2 linked regions of the Homo sapiens genome follow. The protein of the gene in region 1 purifies or fractionates together with the protein of each later gene. This does not show direct contact. Each region holds a gene or a part of one and is shown on either strand. Other genes may lie near its edges.

The links. Proteins that work in one complex are often made in the same cells at the same time.
Region 2: the proteins of PENK (region 1) and ANAPC1 purify together in Homo sapiens (affinity purification with mass spectrometry; 3 studies listed by BioGRID and IntAct, with this or other methods). This does not show direct contact.

Annotation. Positions count from the first base shown.
Region 1 is NC_000008.11:56,443,842-56,447,939, forward strand, and holds the start of PENK (proenkephalin-A preproprotein), read right to left. Parts: upstream 2,801-4,098; 5' UTR 2,728-2,800; intron 2,660-2,727; exon of another isoform or gene 2,641-2,659; 5' UTR 2,585-2,640; exon of another isoform or gene 2,116-2,584; 5' UTR 2,113-2,115; coding exon 1,975-2,112; exon of another isoform or gene 1,966-1,974; intron 1-1,965.
Region 2 is NC_000002.12:111,769,194-111,772,693, forward strand, and holds part of ANAPC1 (anaphase-promoting complex subunit 1), read right to left. Parts: intron 3,283-3,500; coding exon 3,148-3,282; intron 1,942-3,147; exon of another isoform or gene 1,868-1,941; intron 214-1,867; coding exon 98-213; 3' UTR 1-97. UniProt on the Homo sapiens protein: Component of the anaphase promoting complex/cyclosome (APC/C), a cell cycle-regulated E3 ubiquitin ligase that controls progression through mitosis and the G1 phase of the cell cycle.

The sequences.
Region 1 (4,098 bases):
CTATTTTTATTGATGGTTGCTTATTATCTATTTTTTTCAAGTTGCTAACACTACACGTGCCATTCCATCACCTGGATTAAAGTAATGATAATAGTAATAAGTGATAACAACAAGAGCATAAAAAGCAGTATGGAAAATTCTGGAAAGAGCAGCCTTCCTCTTCTCCTCCCCCACAATCCTGTTACATGATGAGAAGAGGGTGAGAGAGGGAGAGAAGTCAAGATTTGAGGTGATACCCAGGGAAGAGCTAGCTGCTACCCAGTGAGCTCTGCTCAAGTTCCTCAACAATGCAAAAGGAAGATTAGTAGCATTTTGGGAGCTTGGTGAATCAAATAGATTAAGTATGAAAAAAACCCATTTGAATAGGCATGATTAAAAGTCAGTCATATTAATTCGCTAACTCACATAATTTAAGTAAATATGATACTACTTTGGGGTCAGTCTGTGTGATTAGAAAAATTAGACTAGAATCCATATAACCTTTATTCAGATGGCAGAGAAAGCTAGGGGAGGGGGCTGAGCCCCTGACATGTTGAGCAGGCAAAGCTCAAAATATGTGTGACTGGGCACAGGGAATTATGGGGTCAGAAAGTGGAGTCTTCTATGTGGCATGTTTTGGATTTTTCTTCCTCCTTCTGTGTCTAAAATTCTTTATCCACAAGATCTATCCTTATATTTGTAGCACTGGCTCAATTTTTAGGCATAGGTTAAAAGCTCATGACTACAGGAGAAAGAAGAAAGATGGGTGAAGGGGATTGTTTCTCCTATTGAAGATGAAACATTTTTCTCATAGTTTAAATATACAACCTTCCTATGTGTCTTCTCTTTAATGCCAAGTTAGCACAGGTCAAAGAAACAAACATTTAACCTGAAATATATACCACAGATATTTGGAAACTGTTCCTTGGTTTTCTCCCCATTTCAAACATCTACATAAGGTAAAATTTCCTCAATTCCAGGTGGAACCCAAAGCAGCTTGGATGAATACATTATTCTCTATGAGCTTTTTAAGTCACCATAAAATTTCAACAAATTTCAAAAGCAATGCAAAGGAATTGTCAGGGGAGCTGGTAAAAGTGAAGCTACCTGAGTCTCGAGGTTGGAGATTCAGACTCAGTAGAGCACCAGAGGTGATTCGACAGCCCATGGGGAACCATGATCAGAATGAAAGTTATTTTGTCCTCAGCTTTTTCTTTCCCCAACCCCCTGTAGTGCAGTGTATCTTTGGACTGTTGTCACCCATTGGACACTGGCCACTTCTCTTGTTCCTTTCTCATAGCCAAATTAAACTGTTGTTTTAGTTACTATTACAAAGGGCAGTTGAAACAGAAGTTGAATTCCAGCATCACTGGCTAGTGAGACAGTTTGAACTCTTTCCTGTCTACGGTTATTTCGCCTTCCTCTCCCCGTACCCCTTTTCCATCCCTTTGCTCTCTCCTATTTACAGGTGAGGGTAGGGAATGAGGGACCTGAGGTTAAGAGAGCTGGGGAACATAAATCTAAAGAAAGGCACCGAAATGTCACTAACAAAAAATTACATTATTTGTGGGAAAGATGGGAAGATGACTGCGTGTGGAGGGGCCCTTAGCTGGGATATGTTAGGAGTTGTGGTGACAGCCATCTTCCTTCTGACAGCCCAGGAGAGAACCCAGTGCTATCCGAGGTGCTGAACAGAGGACTTCTCGGGGTTCCCGAATTCCCAGGGTTAAAACAAACTTGGTTTGTGCGGCGACACCGCTACCCTTACCGGTCCCCAGATAGTCGCGGATCCCCGAAGCTAAGAGCCAGGGCAGGACTTCAGTCAGTGTTCCAGGAACAGCTGAGACACCCAGGTCACCACGGGCTCGCGCCGCTGCGGCTCCGACCCGGTGCGAACCGCCATACGCGCCGCGCGGTGGGCCGGAGGCAGTCCGCGTACTGTTGCGGAAACTCTGTCTCACAAGGTGCGCAACACTCGCCGCGCGCAACACTCACCAGGAAGTTGATGTCGGCCGGGCGCACTAGGCGGTAGCTGCACGTCGCGCAATCCTGGCTGCATTCGGCCCGCACGGTCGCCAGGAGCCCGGGGCCGAGCAACAGCAGCCAAGTGCAAAGTGTCAGGAACCGCGCCATGGACTGCGAGGAGAGAGGGACGCGTGCTTCGAGCCTGCCTGGGCGCAGAACGGGGTCCCTCGGCAGGACCCTCGCCGCGACAGCCTCAGCAGGGGATCGTCGAGCAAAAGCCCGCAGGAATGCTCCTTTCTGGGGCCCCGCCCTCCCGGCCGACAGCTTTTAGGTAGACGTGGAGGCGACTCAGATCGCCTCGCGGTTCCCGGGATGGCGCGGTCGCCCCCAACGCGAGGCTGCCTGGGGCACCCGGCTCTTTTCCTGGGCGTCCGCGGCCCAGGGCAAGATTCCGGAGAGAACGCCGCAGACCAGGGGCGAGAGAGCGGGAGCCGGGGGAGGCAGGACATTGACTGGGGTCACAAAGAAGAACCAGGGAACGCTGTTGGGGAACCCATGCAATGAAATGTGAAGGGAAAGAGGGCGGGCAGACGTCCCCAAACCCGCTCAGCAAAGACAAGCTTCGGGCAAATTCACTCACGTTGACGCTGTTCGGATGGAGCAGGCCAATTGGAAAAGCCGGGTTCAGACACGACTCTAGAGGGAAGAGAAGAAGGCAAGTGTGAGGAGGGCGGGCGTCGGGGAGAAGCGGGCCCGGGTGTGCTGGCGGACGTAGGGCCTCACCGTCGCGGTCCTCAGCGTCTCTGCGGGGTCACGGGCCAGGCTGCGGGGCTCTGAGCGCCTGCCTCGCCGTCCCGGGGCTTAACGGCTGCTGGAGCCACTTTATAATTAGCCCCAAACCGAAGGAGGCGCGCGCGCCCCAATCGCCGGCGGGCTGCAGCTGACGCAGGCCCTACGCCAGCCCCGCGCCGACGCCTTCGCGGGAGGGGTCGGTCCCCCAGCACCCGCGCGCCGCTCCCCCCGCCGAGCTCGGGTGGGGGCCACAGGGGGCGCTCGGTGGCTCCCCACACGGCCAGGTGACAAACCCAAGGCAGTTAGGAAGTTTGGGGAGAGTGAGATAGGATCAAGTTTCTCCGCATAAAGTCACTGAAATTGCACCGTGGGATGCGGGCTCCAGGGAGGGAAGCGAGGTGGGGGCGTTTGGAAGGATAGATGGACTGGCTTAGACTTCTGGAATGTGCTGGAGACCCAGCGGGCCGGTGAACCTGCCCCTTTCCCGCCTCCTCCCTGGGCCCCCTCGCGGGTCCCCGTGGGCACCAAGCACAGCCGTCCGGAATGTCGTCATTTATTGACCAACCTGTCCCCCACACTTGACTCCGAGTTCCTTACTGCAGCATCTAACAGCGTCAAGGTGCGCAGTTTAGGCGCTCAATTAATGGTTACAGGAACTGAACGATTGAAAGTTTCTGGGAATCTTAAAATCTCAGGACAGAATTTTCACCTTTCCAGTTAGAGACCCTTGGCCAAGCGTAGAAGCAGGTAAACCCTCAGGTTCCGGGACTGCGCGCTTTTCAGCCACTGTGGGAGAGGATCCGTGTTTAACCAGCTCCCCGGGGCTCCCAAGTCGAAGACCTACTGCCTTGAGAGCGCTGTCCAGGGTGTCCGGGGGTGTTGGATCAGTGAGAGGGGGGTGCCGGGGCGGGTGTAATGTCAGCGCGCCAGGAGTGTGGTGGGGAGGGAGGGATGAGGGACACCCTACCCGGGACGCCGGGGCTTGGAACCTCTTCTCCACCGGGAGGGGGCCGAGGGCACACTGTGGAGGCTGGTACTGTCCATTAAGACACGCTTTCCCGCTTCCTGGCTCTGCAAAAGATTGCTAAGCGGCAAGCTGCTTACATTGCCTGAGGCCTCAGTTTCCCTATTTGAAAAATAGGAACAGAGGTAATATGCCATTCATAAGGTTCTGGAGAGAATCAAATGAAATAGTGGACGAAATCTCTTAGCCTTGTGCCTGGCACTATAGCAAGCCCTCAAAACATCTTCTAACCATCCGTCATCCGTCCGTCCACCTTTCCATCTGTGACCATTGTCTGCTTACCTTATAGCTACCATCGATGTATCCAATCCACCTATGCATCTATGTCTCCTAGACCT
Region 2 (3,500 bases), on another chromosome or scaffold:
TACCATAAAACTTTATAAACATTGCTTTAGCTTTGATGTTTGGTCACGTTTGTTGTGCAGAAGTCACGTTTCAGGGTAGGTTCACCGCCAGACACGGTCACATCACCATTGGCTGTGGATTTCCAAGAAGCAAAGGAGCCAATCTCAGCAAAGCTCGCACTGGCATTTTTAGCTGCTTAAATTTGAAGAGCAGTTCAGCAAAGCTTGTGCTCCCTAAAATGGAAATGGGGTGGGAAGGTCACATCTCTAAATAAATTCAGCCATACCTCTCCTTTCAAGGAAGCTTCAGAAACACAATCATGTTTAAAACAGGCATTTTTCCCTTTGAAAATGACTATGCAAAGACAATATTTAAAATTATGAAATTCCTTAATACACTGTAATGTAAATTGAGTATCCCTTTTCCAAAATGCTTCTGAAGAGAGGTGTTTTGGATTCTGGATTTTTTTAGATTTTGGAATATCTGCATTACACCTACTGGCTTTCTTTTTTTTTTTTTTTTTTTGGAGACGAAGTCTCACTTTGCCACCGGGGCTGGAGTGCAGTGGCGCTCTCTCGGCTCACTGCAAACTCCACCTCCTGGGTTCACCCATTCTCCTGCCTCAGCCCCCCGAGTAGCTGGGACTACAGGTGCCCACCACCACGCCCAGCTAATTTTTTTTGTATTTTTAGTAGAGATGGGGTTTCAACGTGTTAGCCAGGATGGTCTCGATCTCCTGACCTCGTGATCCGCCCGCCTCGGCCTCCCAAAGTGCTGGGATTACAGGCGTGAGCCACTGCGCCCAGCCTCGGCTGAGCATTCTTAATCCAAAAATCCCAAATCCAAAATGCTGTAATGAACATTTCCTCTGAGCATCATGTTGGTGCTCAAAACGTTTTCGATTTCAAACACTTCAGATTTCAGATTAAGGATACTCAAACCTGTATATGATTTGATAGAATTTACCCATTCTAGACTTCAGAAAGTGACCTATAACTACATGTGAAACTACTAATATTGTTTAATTTTATATATATATATATATATATATATATAAATTCTTTAAATATAATGTGCAAAAGTGCCTGTCTACCTTCAAATACTATCTAAGTGGTATTTTACTGGTTCTAATACAGTTGACCATTGAACAACCCTGTTTGTCCAGCCTGGCCTGAAAAGAAGTCTATACTTTTAAAATGTCTTCCTTTTCCTTTTAGTAGTTTGACTATTAATGTGACTAGGTATGGTTTTCTTTGTATTTATCCTGCTTAGGGTTCACTGTGGGTTAATATTTAACACAATTTTTCAAAATTCTTAGCTTCTGTCTCTTCAAATATTGCTTCTAACTCATTTTTTCTCTCCTCTTATTCTCTTATTCCAACCCCATGCATGTTTATTTTTTTTTCACGGTTTCCACATGTCTCTTGTACTCTTCTCTGTATTTCCTAACCATTCTTCCCTCTGTGCTTCAGTTTGTTTACTTTCTACTTGTCTTCCAGCAGATAAGTGTCTTCCAGTTCACTTCAAATAATCCAGTACTGAGATCTTCATTTCAGTTACTATATTTTTCAGTTCTAGAATTTCCATTTAACTCTTTTTTATTGACCCCAGGTTTCTGGTGAAATTCCCTATCATTCCTTCTATTTTCCTGGAAACATTAGACATAGTTATTTTAAGTTCCAGTATGATAACTCCAATATCTGAATCACACATAAGTCTGTTTCTATTATCTGTTTTTTTATTATTATTATGTTTCGTAATTTTTGATTCAACACTGAATCCTGTAGACTAAAAATTGCGGGGGCTCTGGGTATGTTTTCTTTCTCCTATGAAGGTTACATTTTCTTCTGTCAGGTGGGGAGAAAGCACACAGATCACCTTAGTTCTGCTCTAGGCTAATTGTAGGTCAAGTCTGCTTGGAGTGAAACTGAAGCAGACCAGATCTAAAATTAGGCTAGAGCAGGCTTAGGGCTTGGCCATGTATTAATTCACCTGAGGAGCTGGGATGCTGATCAGAGCCACTTCACTTTAACAAGCGTTGAATTCCACCCTTTGTCTCCTCAGTCCTATGCTGCTGCTGACATTTTTGCTTACATTTTTGGCCTTGTGGCTTCTGCTAGATCTCTTGAAGTCTTATCCCATGTATATGAAGGCTAAAATATCATTAAGTAACTCAAGGGAAAGGTATATCCAGAGTCTGAGTTATGATTTCTATTGTTCTCTCCTGCCTGAGACTGTGTTCCTCAAGTTCTAGGCTCTTGGGCAATCACAAACCCAACCTCTGGCTCCTCAGCCCTGCAGCATTGCTGCTTTTTGCTGGCACTCTACTTCTTGTACTATGAACTGGCAAATGCCTTTGGGGGAGAAGCTAGGGTGAATATAAAGCTCTCCCTGTTGTACTTCCCTTTTCTTATTTTTTTTTTTTAGCTTTTATATTTGTTTTTGAGGGCAAGTGAGTCCAATACAAGCAATTCCATCATGGCCATAACCAGAAGTCTCTAGATAGTAAACTTTTATCAGAGGCTTGCAAAACAGCAAAAAACTAGTAATGTAATTAAACTTCAAGTTTAAATGATTAAATGGAACAATCTTTGCCCTTATCAAAAAATATTTTTTTTGAGAATCTCAAAAAAATTGGGTGCTTAGAATTCATCATATCTTAGTATTCAGCTTAATGGATAAATTTTTTTTATCTGTTTCTATATTCTGAAAAATACAATCAGGTGATAATACTATTAATTTTTAAAACTATTATAAAAAAATTCAAACACAAAATTAGGTATTTATTAGTTGTAAAGCTTTGTAATATTAGAAATTAAGATTATATGTGATTCTAAAAAACCCAACTGAAAACCTAGAAAATAAAGAAAAATAGCTTTAATAAAAAAATCAATTAGTAAAGAATAATATGGAATATTTAGTTTATTAGTATAGATCAGTGTTTGGGGCTCTGTGAAGAAGAATCCATCCTTTTCTGAATAAAAATGAAAGTTATTCATATATAAAGTTGATAATTTTTTCTTTTTTGCTCCAAAACAGTCCCTAACAATGACACTGCAACATTAATGAAGAGGAAAGTCAAACTAGGGGCAGTAACTACTGAGAAACTAGAACATAAAGGGGTAGGTAACAGAGTTACTGAAGATAAGACTTAGATATGCAATTACCTTCTAGTCCTATAGGTGGCAGGTGCTGTGGAGCTGGCACAGAGTGGTAGACGAGGAAGCAGGCCAGCATGCTCAGCTGTGATTCCTCCAAGGGCTGCCCGCTGAGGTAGGCGTGCACACACATATCACCCCCGACTGTGAGAGAAACAAATGGAACGGAACCAACTGATGACAGAACTGAGAGGCACAAGAAATATCTTCTATTACTTTTTCATCAAGAACTTATTGAACGCTCAGCATATATAAAGCAGGTTCTATAGCCGGTATTGAGGCTACTCTGACAAGCTAGACTGAGTCCCTGTCATTGTAGAGTTTAGAGTGTTGTTGGGGGAGACAGATATTACACAAATAAT